Linked DNA regions of Homo sapiens: all the other regions are reported to be linked to region 4. Evidence: microRNA targets listed by miRTarBase, many of them from high-throughput screens and not tested one by one. Region 4 holds a microRNA gene; each other region holds the end of a gene's coding sequence.

Evidence for each region. Region 4 holds the annotated microRNA hsa-miR-4744 (UCUAAAGACUAGACUUCGCUAUG, at 1,034-1,056, opposite strand). A microRNA usually pairs through its seed, bases 2 to 8, with sites in the 3' UTR of a target mRNA and lowers its output. Matches are read on the target gene's strand: a 7mer-m8 pairs with bases 2 to 8, a 7mer-A1 pairs with bases 2 to 7 and ends in A, and an 8mer does both.
Region 1: miRTarBase lists ZC3H13 as a target of hsa-miR-4744. Seed matches in the 3' UTR shown: 8mer at 485-492.
Region 2: miRTarBase lists SARAF as a target of hsa-miR-4744. Seed matches in the 3' UTR shown: 8mer at 2,908-2,915.
Region 3: the mRNA of CDCA4 is a reported target of hsa-miR-4744. Seed matches in the 3' UTR shown: 7mer-A1 at 612-618 and 8mer at 704-711.

The regions. Positions count from the first base shown.
Region 1 is chr13:45,954,287-45,957,469 of GRCh38, reverse strand. It overlaps ZC3H13 (zinc finger CCCH-type containing 13), which reads left to right. Exons shown (of 19, transcript NM_001330564.2): 19 at 173-3,005. The coding sequence ends at 343. Among named protein-coding and RNA genes, the nearest start is that of ZC3H13, 97 kb to the left of the region's middle.
Region 2 is chr8:30,060,916-30,064,085 of GRCh38, forward strand. SARAF (store-operated calcium entry associated regulatory factor) reads right to left here. Exons shown (of 6, transcript NM_016127.6): 6 at 2,088-2,998. The coding sequence ends at 2,973. Among named protein-coding and RNA genes, the nearest start is that of SARAF, 21 kb to the right of the region's middle.
Region 3 is chr14:105,008,313-105,011,495 of GRCh38, reverse strand. CDCA4 (cell division cycle associated 4) reads left to right here. Exons shown (of 2, transcript NM_017955.4): 2 at 1-1,923. The coding sequence ends at 292. Among named protein-coding and RNA genes, the nearest start is that of CDCA4, 11 kb to the left of the region's middle.
Region 4 is chr18:49,048,704-49,051,886 of GRCh38, forward strand. It overlaps MIR4744 (microRNA 4744), which reads right to left and starts at 1,065; the gene lies at 984-1,065. All of the region lies in intron 17 of DYM (dymeclin), which reads right to left.

The DNA of each region.
Region 1 (3,183 bases), not on the chromosome of region 4:
ATTGAGCCCAAACACATTTTCTAATTTTGCTTTGAAATCCAATAAAGCTAATTTAATATCCAAAATGAAATACTCTTATAACTTTGATATTTTGGGTAGAGGTTAACCTGCCCATCTTTCCTACTAATAATGTACATCTTTTTTAAAGTTTGTTTTTGTTTTCTTCAAATAGGGCACCATAAAACAAGCTTACACGAGTGCTCCAATGGTAGACAATGAATTACTTCGATTGAGTCTTCGGTTATTTAAGCGGAAGACTACTTGCCATGCTCCAGGACATGAAAAGACTGAAGATAATAAACTTTCACAGTCCAGTATCCAACAGGAACTGTGTGTGTCTTAAGACCGAAGTTCAATATGGTATTTTTGGTACTGTCTTCCTTCAGCAGTGCATATTCTTTTGCAAAGTTCTTTGGTTTGACAAGCATTAGTGACAAAGGCAGAAAAGATTTATCAGCCATGCTAAAAGAGTGAAGAATTTTGATCTTTAGAGACACTAGTTTTGGCCAACTTAAGATTTTACGTTAATTTTTACATAGTATTTGACACTCATGCAAAATAATGTGAAAACATCTAGATTTAGTAGTTTATTCTGCGCCTTTTGTTAAAACTGAAGATTTTGGAAAATGGTTGTCACTGCTCTTCCAGCCTATGAATATTTTTGTGAAATGGAACCATGGATTTATGTCTGGATCATCCATACAGAACCAACAATTTTATTCAAAAACAATGTGTTCATCAAAGTAATTGCTCACATTGTGCAGTACTATGTTGTACAGACCACGTGAAAGGGAATGCTGGTCTAGCTGGCGTGGTATGTTTATAGGCGAATTTCAGCAGAAGGAAGCCAAAATAGTTTTTTCCTTTTGAAAGTTTTTTAAAAATTATTTCATGGGTCTTTTTTTTAATTAATATGTGTGCATTGTTACAATGTATGTTGGATGTCTTTTGACCCTAAATGCTTTTTTTGTTATCAGAGATTGTGTACTATTTTTATTTTTAATAAATGTATCTTCCCTTTCCTTGTTTTAGATTTACTTTGCTCTTCGTTAATCTTATTCCTGATGATCTAGAACATTAGTCATCAACATTACATGTTTCATGCTTCAGATATTTTACTGCTTGTGTCCTTATTGTTGGACAGCTTTAAACAGAGTTGATGTACTTCAAATATAGCTCATTGATACTTAAGGCATCTTCTTGGAATGTGGCTTTTGAAGAAAAAAATTACTCAAAGCAAATCAAGAGTTAACAAACCTAACGTAACCTGAGGTTTAATATTCTACTATCATATTTTTTAGAGCTATAACTTTTGATTATATTAAACTGCCTCCAGCTGTACTATGTAAAACAGATTTACTTTTAAAAATTACAGTATACCTGCTTTGTTCTATATGTATATGTTTAACTCATGAAGTGGACTCTTAGAAGGATTTGAAATGGACTCTGGCCACAGAATTTGTGAGCAGACAGTAGTAGTGATAATAATAAAAGAAGGCAATCAAAATTTAATTTTATCATGCCCTCTCACAGGTTTGTGTTATAATTGTAAGCCCATATTACTTGTGTTAGTAGTTTTGTCTCTATAGGTAACATAATGACAGTGGTGTAAAGTTTCTGTTCAAGAAACATATGTTGTAAAGTTACTTTATACAAGATACCTGCCAAAGGAAATGGTCTTACTTTCAAATGACTTTGAAAGCATGTATAATTGCAAACAGAGCAGGAGAAGACTTTAATCAGAATTTCCTTGTGTCCTTTTCCTTTACTAAGTGTTTTGAATAAAGAAAAAAAAAATGTATGACCTCAGAGAATGAATACCCTTCAGGAAGCCACTTCCTGATTTTAGTGGATAATATTGTTCTCTGTAGCACAAAGATTTAAAGTCCTAGAATTTCTAATCCTAGTTCTCAGAATTGTAGAATATGACAAAAATAATGGTTTCCCCATTTGTCCACTGACTTCAGGGATATTTCACAAGTTATTTATTTATAGAATGAAAACTATGTAGTTAAATCTGTCATTCAGTTAAACCTGTTGTCTTTCAGTTTGAAATCTTTTTGTTATGTATGTTGCAAAAGAAAATTTAGAACTATTCCTTTGTTCACTCAGTCACAGCATTCAGAGCTTTATGTTTCCAGTGGAAATGTACTGTTCAGTCTCAATTTCTTTTAATTCAACCATTCTCAGTATTAGTAACATATACCTATAAAATTTTTCTAAAGCAAAATTTTTGATTGAATTTCTCATAAAAGCTCTTGGACCATAATTAAAGTCTCAGTTAAACTGGTATTCCCGAAAAACAATCTTCCAGTCTATAAATTGTTTGCTAGTACAATTAAAAGGTCATCTATCTCATAACTGACGGCTCAGGTCTGTCCAGTTGCCATAATTGCACAACTGGATTCCAGCTGCTGGTAATAAGGAATTGTGTAGATAGATAAAGGGCAAGAGTATGTCTGCAATCCAAAATAAATGAGAGTTAACACATAATTAGCCTTTTGATTATTTTGGCAGCTATCCTCACCATTTAGTAAAGGGTATACTAACAATACCCAACTTTATTTAACAAAGTTTTGTAAGCATACCTAAGTAGTAACTTGATATGCTGAAAAATCTGACCTGTCACTTCGCTTCACTCTGACCAGTAATTGCAGATTGTCGTCACCATCCTAGCCTATGACTACATTAGGATTTTATGACTTATTAACTTGAAAATCTGTTCTGTAAGTGGCATTGGTAGAATCTCCCACTTTGCTCCTCACTGTCCAATTGTGTAAAGATTAAGGTACATACTATTGTTGGTGATGCTTTTACACCTCAACTTGCTATTTTAAAAGGTTATATGAACCCCTCCCACTTTTAAGGATATTCCCTTTTACTGATTTTCCTAGCTAAAATTATATAGCCATCTTTCTAAATATTGTATTTAAATCTGATCTAGGACTTGCCTTATTTTATCATTTTTCTTTAATAATCTCCAATAAACTTTCTTTATTCATTAATTTTGTTGATCTTTCCATTTCAGTATTTTGAATGACACTCTGGGGAATCCAAGTTTAAATGGTGAAATATTTTTATTAAATAACTTTCTACATGCATCTGTAAACATACTTTCTCAACTTTATTGAGCTGTTTCTTTCATATTTTTTTTTCTTTTTTAAATTATTTTTATAGAGATGG
Region 2 (3,170 bases), not on the chromosome of region 4:
AGTGTAGGCCATCTTCGAGTCCATGTTCAGCAAACCAACTAAACTGTTAAGAGTCCTTTCTAACCTCTCAAATATTGAATCCAGAATCTCTGCTGAGTGGGCCAATATCAATAAAGTTGTCCTGACTGAACTTTACAGTCCTACCACCATATCCTACACTCTAAGATCCATTCCCACACATATTCCCCAGATTTCTATCTGTATAGACTGGGAAAATCATGGAGTCCTTTTGGTGTGCAGGGTACCTCCTCATGGATCATAATTTGTACCTCACTCTTTGGTGCCTACTGGAACGTGAGTCTAGCTGTACATCTAGGAGCAAAGCAGGTAGCAAGGGCAGACCCTGAGGCAGATGAGTGATGCCTGGTAACGAACACCTCTGAAGAGACCATTACAGATCCTTCAGGCAAAGTAGGATTAACCTTCTCAGACAGAAGTAGAAGGGCTGCTTCTACCGGCAAGAAATACTACGCAGAATTTAGGGGTTCCATTTCACTGGCTTCATCAGGATCCTTTCTTATGTCCCCATTCCACTTTTCAGGATCCCACTGCTTCTCAATCAATGCTCTCACCTTATTTTTTTAAGAGACAAGGTCTCACCCTGTTGCCCAGGCTGGAATGCAATGGCAAAATCACAGCTCACTGCAGCCTTAATCTCCCGAGCTCAAGTGATCCTCCCACCTTAGCCTCTGGAGTAGCCAGGACTACAGGTGCATACCACCATGCCCAGCTAATTAAAATAATAATCTGTAGAGATGAAATCTTGCTATGTTGCCCAGGCTTGTCTCGAACTCCTGGACTTAAGCAATCCTCCTGCCTTAGACTGTACTATCTTATTATTCTAAGTTTTACATTTGGGGAAGTGATACATGTGAACCTTTTCCATAGACAACAAAGGGCCGGGAGTAGTGGTTCATGCCTGTAATCCCAGCACTTGGGGAGGCCATGGTGGGAGGACTGTTTGAGGCCAGGAGTTCGAAACTAGCCTGAGCAACATAGTGAAACACCATCTCTACCAAAAAAAAAAAAAAAAAAAAAAAGTTCTTAAATGACAAGGAAGTACAAATACACAACAGATAAAAGAGGAACACTCAGGTGGGGCTTGAAACCTATACTCTGCCTCTTTTCCTCCCTTCCCTCCAGGGACCCTCTAAAGAACCTCATAAGAACACCACTAGGGCTCCCCAGAGTAATCTAAAAGCCACCAAGTCAACTCTTTTTTTTTAAAGCTATCGCCTACAGGAAGAACAGTCAACTCTCTTTACATTAACTCATTATTTTCTTACAATCCCAATGATCTGCAGTACTATGTTCAAAAACAATCTGAGTAAGCCGGGCGCGGTGGCTCACGTGTGTAATCCCAGCACTTTGGGAGGCTGAGGCAGGTGGAACACCTGAGGTCAGGAGTTCGAGACCAGCCTGGCCAACACAGTGAAACCCCATCTCTACTAAAAATACAAAAACTTAGCTGGGCTTGGTGACAGGAGCCTGTAATCCCAACTACTCAGGAGGCTGAGGCAGGAGAATTGCTTGAACCCAGGAGGAGGAGGTTGCAGTGAGCCGAGATCATGCCACTGCACTCCAGCCTGGTGACAGAACGAGAGACTCTGTCTCAAAAAAAAAAAAAAAGCAACAAACTACATTCTCTTTTATTCCATATCCTTCTACTAAGGAGAAATGGGGTAAGGATTTAGTGGGATATACATAAAGTAAAGCTGTGTTTCTTCTATCAGTTAAAATTTCTACTGTTTTACTGATGAAAAGAGGATAGTTTTATTATGCAATAGTCTTAATAAGGGTTTGTTTTAAATTGGTTCTTATTGGTTGGTGAAAAGTAACTGCAGTTTTAAATGGCAAAAATCATTAAACACATAAGATATAAAACTGGGGCTTTGAGGTTATGAAGCTTAACTAAGTGTAACCATGCAATCTCTGATGGGTTGGGAGGCTTGGAGATTTAATTATTTTTTTCAAACGCTATTTTTTGGCAGAGGCTTCCACACCATTTGTAAATTACTTTTTGAAAACATTTACCAAAAGACTAAGGTACGACTACCACATAAAATTACTGTTTAGGGAGACAGAACTTCTGCATGAACTTTCCCCTTTGGGAAAAAGGGTTTAAAAAAACAAAAAGTAACATTTATTTGCGCCTAGGCTAATAGAAAGAATGAGACTAAACCCCTTGTTTGTTTTTATTGATTCTTTTTAAGATTGAAACAGACTATTACAACAATATTTGAGATTTCACAGAGAACTGCATGCTTTTGTTATTAAAAGACTTTTGTTGAAAAATTTGACCTTTACCTCTTATGAACGAAAGAAATATAGAGGTTTCAAGCATTTTTGCCAGCACAGAGTCATTCACAACAACCTTCTAGATGCTTATTTTCTACCTTTTCCTACAGAAGGTAATATTCAGTTACCAGAAGGCCATCTCCACCACTGAATGATTCAAAGCTTCAGAGCTCAAAAGTGATCAGAACTCACAAATTAGCATAATTAGTCCAAAGCTTGATTTAAATGTTTGAAGAACAGCAAACATCAAATAATATAATACCAAATAGAATATTATAGTCTCTATGAGGTAATAACTCATCAGCTACAACCACCTAAAACTGAAATTTTCTGTACTTAGTTTCTATTAGTACAACACCTTCATTCTTAATGCTTCTTAGGGCATCACAGGTTTTAGAAATTAATGTATTTTTAGCATTCCACAGTAATGATCACTTTCAAAAACTGCAATATACATCTGCATGTTACACTGACATACAACACATAAGTATTTTGTCACACATCAACTTTTAGCCTCAAATAATAGAATACAAAAAGCTACACTGGACATAACACCACAGAACTTTTGAATATCCCCTTTTCCCAATTGTTAACAGGTAGTACTTTTTTTCTAAAGAGAAAGTGATGAAAAATCCAAAATTTCTGCATCCAGTGTTTGACTCCAACTTTCTACTTTATCGTCTCCTGGTACCACCATATCCTAGAATGAGAGGGGTAAAATTTACATTAGTTTTTAAAAATGCATTAGAATTGCTTATAAAATTACAAGTCATACATGTTTATTGTCAGCAAATGAATGAGATAGGAGGAAAGGAAAGAGTGTGCCACTAGGTGGAACTGGGCTAAGCAGGACAGTGCATCGCCTCCCACAG
Region 3 (3,183 bases), not on the chromosome of region 4:
CTGGGAGATGGATGGCCCTCGAGAAAACAGAGGAAGCTTTCACAAGTCACTTGATCAGATATTTGAAACGCTGGAGACTAAAAACCCCAGCTGCATGGAAGAGCTGTTCTCAGACGTGGACAGCCCCTACTACGACCTGGACACAGTACTGACAGGCATGATGGGGGGTGCCAGGCCGGGCCCCTGCGAAGGGCTCGAGGGCTTGGCTCCGGCCACCCCAGGCCCTAGCTCCAGCTGCAAGTCCGACCTGGGCGAGCTGGACCACGTGGTGGAGATCCTGGTGGAGACCTGAGCAGGAGCCCTGAGTGCTCACAGCCGCCTCTGACGCATTGACACGTGAGCACTGGCTCCCACGGAGGGTGCGCCTGCCGCCAGCGGCCCAGCCTTGCTGCCCTGTCTGCTGATTCTGAGAAATCCCAGAACAGCCCATTACCAGTGGGGCTGCAGCCCTAGGCCCGTCCCACTCACCTCCCCCCTGTGGAGCGCCAGGCAGAGGCTGTTCTGGAAGGCTTCTTGTCTTCTGACGTCCCCACAGCCCTGGGCCCCTCGTGTCTCTTTGTGTCCCCCACTGTAGAGGACGGTGAGCCGCAGCTGCATCAACCTCCTTTTACCTTTAGATAGGTGAATTTTTACAATTCAGTTTTACATGTTTTGGGCAGTATTTTGTCTTAAGATATATTTTTTAAACTTTTTATACCTTATCTCTTTAGATTTTTTCAGCTATTTTCTTAAAAGTATATTTTTTCTATAAACATCCTTTGCTGCTACATTAGAACTTTTATAGCCTAAACAATTGCAGTTGGTGTGTTTCATTTTTTTAAGGTTTAAATAAGGGTTTTTTGTTTTGTTTTGTTTTTTGCAGTGAGCATCACTACAGTCTCAGTCAACAGTGTGAATGTATCATGTTTTACTTTAAATGTGTGTGTGATACTTCTTCATTATGTCCTGCGCTGCAGTGAGACCTGGGTGAAAATCAGGAGCCGCACACAGCCACATCTTCCTAGACCTAAGAGTAAATTATGGAGGATTTTATTTATGTCTATTTATATGTAAATGTCATTGAAGACAAAGGTCAAATATTTGTCTGTTTGTAGATCACAGGCACCAGTTGGTCTTCAGGGACCTCATAGCCCCTCGGTGGTGCCTTCTCAAGGCAGTGTTCCTGGAGGCTCCCATCAGGGTCAGCCCATGCACCTGCCCTGGGTGAGGAAGTAGCATTGCTGCTGGATGAGAAACGCCTGCGCTGCTCTGTTAGACTGGTGCTGAAACAAAAGGTTAAGGCTAGGTTGAAGTCTAGAATGAAAGAAATCTGAATCCATGTCATTCATAACCCCTTGATCTGTAGTGTCATGGGTGCTGCCGCAGGCAGGGAGTGAGCTGGGGGTGCCTGCAGCCTTCCACTCCTGCCCCGCCTCACCCCACATGCTCCCTGTTTCTCATGCTTTCTCTAACTTCCTCACCCCTTAACCAAAAAGGTGTGTTTTCTTTTGTGCATATAGCCATTCTTAAATATCAGTGATGTAAACCTCACTTTATTAAAAAATTATCCAGCAAACAAAATGGGAATGTGGTGTTAGTTACGACCACGGCCTGACCCTCCAGCAACCTTTCTGCAGGATCAGTTCTGCTGTATTATCTGGTGGTGCTTTCTAAGGTGGGGAAAGGAATTGCACTTGGCTGCATTAAATGGACGCTGGGTTACTTTTATTTCCCCCCCCCACAGGGTTGCAGAGCAAATTCTTTTTACATTGTTCAGCGCCCGGCTGGAGTTGGGGGTGTCCACGACCTCTGACAGCCCCCGATGTCGAAAGTTAATCCTCATGGACCCTAGTTTAAAGGGTATGTGTTTTATAGGAATAAATCTAAAGCACTATTTTGTTTCTGTATAGCATTTTTATCTTTTAGAAACATCATTTGTTCAGCATTAGTAGTAGTTGTAGTGCCTGTTTTGGTAGCCTTCAAAATTATAAACTGCTCAGAGAATGTGACTTTTGAGCGCTTTAGGGGTGCTTGGTCGGAAAACAGACTGGGTCTGTGGAAGGACCACAGACAGGAGAGAACAGCTGCTGTGACTTAGAAGTGTAGCCGGAGTCTCATTCCCTGGACTCGCCGTGTTCACCTGTGACACCGTACACCAAAGCCTGCTTGTTTCCACCGTGGTGCGCAGTGGCTGAGTAATCAGCTGTTTTCCAAGCATCATTTCTCTGCAAGTTTAGTCCGTGTGTGTGGCTTTGTTTTTTTTTGTTTTTTTTTTTTCTTTTTTTTTGATGGAGTCTCGCTCTGTCTCCCAGGCTGGAGTGCAGTGGCGCGATCTTGGCTCACCGCAACCTCTGCCTCCCAGGTTCAAGCGATTCTCCTGCTTCAGCCTCCCAAGTAGCTGGGATTACAGGCACCCACCACTACGCCCAGCTAATTTGGTGTATTTTTAGTAGAGACAGGGTTTCACCGTGTTGCCAGGATGGTCTCGAACTCCTGACCTCATGATTCACCTGCCTCAGCCTCCCAAAATGCTAGGATTACAGGCGTGAGCCACCGCGCCTGGCATTCTTGGTTTTTTGACAGGATTTAACTTTTGTTGCCCAGGCTGGAGTGCAATGGCGTGACCTTGGCTCACTGCAACCTCTGCCTCCCAGGTTCAAGCGATTCTCCTGCCTCAGCCTCCCAAGTAGCTGGGATTACAGGCATGTGCCACCACGCCCGGCTAATTTTTATATTTTTAGTAGAGATGGGGTTTCACCATGTTGATGAGACTGGTCTCGAACTCCCAACCTCAGGTGATCCACCTGCCTCGGCCTCCCAAAGTGCTGGGAATATAGGCGTGAGCCACCGCACCTGGCCATGTATGTGGTATTTTTAAGTCTGTAGGTACAAATTGACTTTAATTGGGAAGAAATTTTCCAAGTGTTTAATAATTTTGTTTACAAAATGTTTATTCAGAAACAGAAATACAAATTCCAGTCATCTAAACTTGGCACTGTTCTCTGCGGTTTGCTTCTGGCCAAACTGAGGGGAGCGGGCATGTTAGTTGACAGTTTCCCAGGGGCGTTTCCTGACGTGTGGTGGGTACCCCTCACGTGCAGCATGCCTTGCACACAGCTTCGGAGCCCCTTCTACCTCAGAAGTTCGGTTTCTAGGGTTATAAAGTAATGCACGTTTATTTGAAGACATGGAACCAGTATGAAG
Region 4 (3,183 bases):
ATGGCTTTGGGGAAACTCTGATGACTATTCCGCTAGAAGGAGTAATGAGTCAAAGACTGCCCTTAAATCCTGCAAAAGAGGATCTGGAAAAAATACCTGGCACCCCCATGACTATCCTTCCCACCACCTGGTACAACCAGAAGTGAAAATGCCTCAAGTTGATGTTGAAACAATAACTCATCTCACCCTCCACAAAGGCACAGGACATCTCTCAGCAACAGAGATCTTTCCTCTAATCGGAAAGTACACTCTTTGGCTGGTAGTAACTATGGCTTTCAAATGTTGCAAACAAAATCTCAGGAACATCCAGTATATAGCATATGATAGTACACAAAAATGGTATAAAATAGTATAAACTTTATCTGTCAAGAGAAGACGTGTAGATTTTATTATGAAGTTATTCTTCAAGCTGATCATTATTTCCATAGAAGTTCTCCATAAAAATAATAAATTCTGAGATTATACCTAGCATTTATAGCTAATACAATTGATTACCTATTATATGGCAGGCATATTCAAAGAATTTACATATAGTTACTCATTTCATCTTTGAAACAACTACAAAAAGCAACTCCAAAGGCAGGCAGATAATTTGAGTTTCAGTCCCATCTTTTCCCATTCATTCACTCAGTAAATACTTACTGAGGGCCTAGTGTATAGTAAGCACAGGACTAAAAATACAGCCACTAGGACACATGGGGTCCCAGCCTTCAAGAGCTAAAAGGCCAGTCCTTATTAGCTGAGTGACCTTGGACTAGTCTCACATCCTTGCTCAGATCAGGCTCTTAAGGTTTACTATACTCTGAGGCTTGGAATGTAACCATCCTTCCTACTTCACAGAGTTGTACTGACAATCGGATGAGATAAGCCACGTGAAGGGCTTGGTATAGTACCCACCACAGAGTAAGTACTTAATGAATGTTGGCTATTATTACTGACATTAAAATGACATGCAAGTATAAGGGATGCTCTTATAATGTTCTGTAATCAAACCTAAAGACTAGACATACTATGATGTTTACTATGGCCTGGTCATAGCGAAGTCTAGTCTTTAGATGTGATTACAGAGCCCATTTCTCTTACAAGCCCATTTCTCTTATGCACCCAAATGGATACTTCTCACTTGGCAACTGACTCTTAATAATAGAAATAAGCCTCCCTGCATGAAAACCAGACACAAGTGCTGACAAATGGCTTAAAGGCACTGAGCTCATCTTCATCAACATTTTTAAAGAACAAAGCTGTTTCAGTAAGAGAAGGCAGGTGCTGAAGAACTGCCTTCTTTCTCTGTCTCAGAGTCAGGCTCAACTGGAGGGGAGAAGATTGGCCCTGGAGTGGGTTTATGGTTATGATAAGGTGGACAGAGAGGTAACTTCCTTTTTTTTTTTTTTTTTTTTTTTAAGATGGAGTTTCACTCTTGTTGCCCAGGCTGGAGTGCAATGGCGCGATCTCGGCTCACTGCAACCTCCGCCTCCCGGGTTCAAGCAATTGTCCTGCCTCGGCCTCCCTAGTAGCTGGGATTACAGGCATGTGCCACCATGCCCGGCTAGTTTTTTTTTGTATTTTTAGTAGAGACGGGGTTTCTCCATGTTGGTCAGGATGGTCTTGAACTCCCGACCTCAGGTGATCTGCCTGCCTCGGCCTCCCAAAGTGCTAGGATTACAGGCATGAGCCACCGCACCCAGTCCAGAGGGGTAACTTCTACAGTGTATGTGACATTAGGCTTTTGCAATCTAATGGGGTAACTAAGAAGGGTTTACCATCTATGAAGGGGTAACTTCTGCAATGTATGTGACCTAGGTGTTTACCATCTTCCTGTAAGATCGTGCAGCACGTTCAACAACATCCAGCATGGCAGCTAACTCCCTGAGCCACACGGGGCTGCGGGGGCTGTGGTTGACCAGGAATGAAGCCTTCTGCTTGAAGTTCACAGACAGCCCAGTAGGAAGCTCAGTGGAAATGACTCTGACTAGAGCTGCCATGTACCAGGCACTTCCTGCTTCACTAATGACCACCCTATAAAAAACAAAAGTGGCCTCTCTCGGCTCACTGGCTTATTGCCTTCACAACACTCAGTGCAATTGGTGCTTCTCTTATTTGTTGACTTGTGCACCATTTGTTTCCCCAACTAGAACAAACATCGGTTCTAAGAAGGCAGGGACCTTATGAGCATCTGGCATGTCACTGACATCTTAAGGCACGTTTGCTGAATGAGGAATTAAATAAATGAACGAATGACGTAAAATCTGCACAAAAATCCTGTGACACAGGTATTATTCACTCCATTATAGAGATTTAAAAAACCAAGACCCCAAAAGAATAAGTCACATGAAAAAGAGGCCACAGCAGTGAGTGGTAGAGCCAGAAGCTGAAAGAAGCTCAGGCCTTTCCTCTGGAGCCTCCCCAGGGTCAAAAGGGACCTGAGTGTGCCCTTAGAATGTCTGTGGCCAACGTGGACACTAGGTTTTCATGTCTTTCAAGTAATAATAATGAGCTTCAGATGTTTCTTCAATATCCTCCTAACCAACAACTCACTTAACCTTTTGTGGCCGTGTTTCCTCACTGTGAGTGATGGGGTTGATCACCAGGTGAGCCCAGGCTGGGGACAGGAGGCCTTGGCTCTGTCTTGGCTCAGCAGGTGGCAAGCTGGGCAGTTTGGGGCAAGTCATAGCATTTCTCAGGACTCAGTTTTCTAGCCTTGTGAAAAATGAAGGACCTTTGAGCTCCTTCCAATTCTGACTAGGTGTGGTTTTATGTTTAGACCAGTAAGGTCTAAAGGTGTATTCCCTGCCATGCCTCTAGGCTCTGCAGGGTTCACTTGAAGAAAGGGTTGAATGGGTTGGGCCTGGGTTCAGCTGCAACCCTGAAGTTAAGCATTTGTTGATTTCTACTTAGACAGACTTTGCATTGGAGATGGTATCTGAATGTCCTGGAGGTTGACAATAGACATTTTTAAAGGCTAAGGCTCCCAACTGCTGAAAACAAAGACAAGCTTGAAGCTGCTGTTGAGCTGCTCTGTGGCCTGGGAGCTCCCAGCTAAGTGGGCTGAGGTTCCAGGCGCTGCCCCCGTCCGTGCTGGCTAGTGAAGGCCTGGTCCCCTCCACAGACTGGGTTCCCAAACTGCTGTCTCCCAAGTGTGCACTACTGGTCATGGGGGGACTGAAAGAGCGGGTAGAGAGAGCA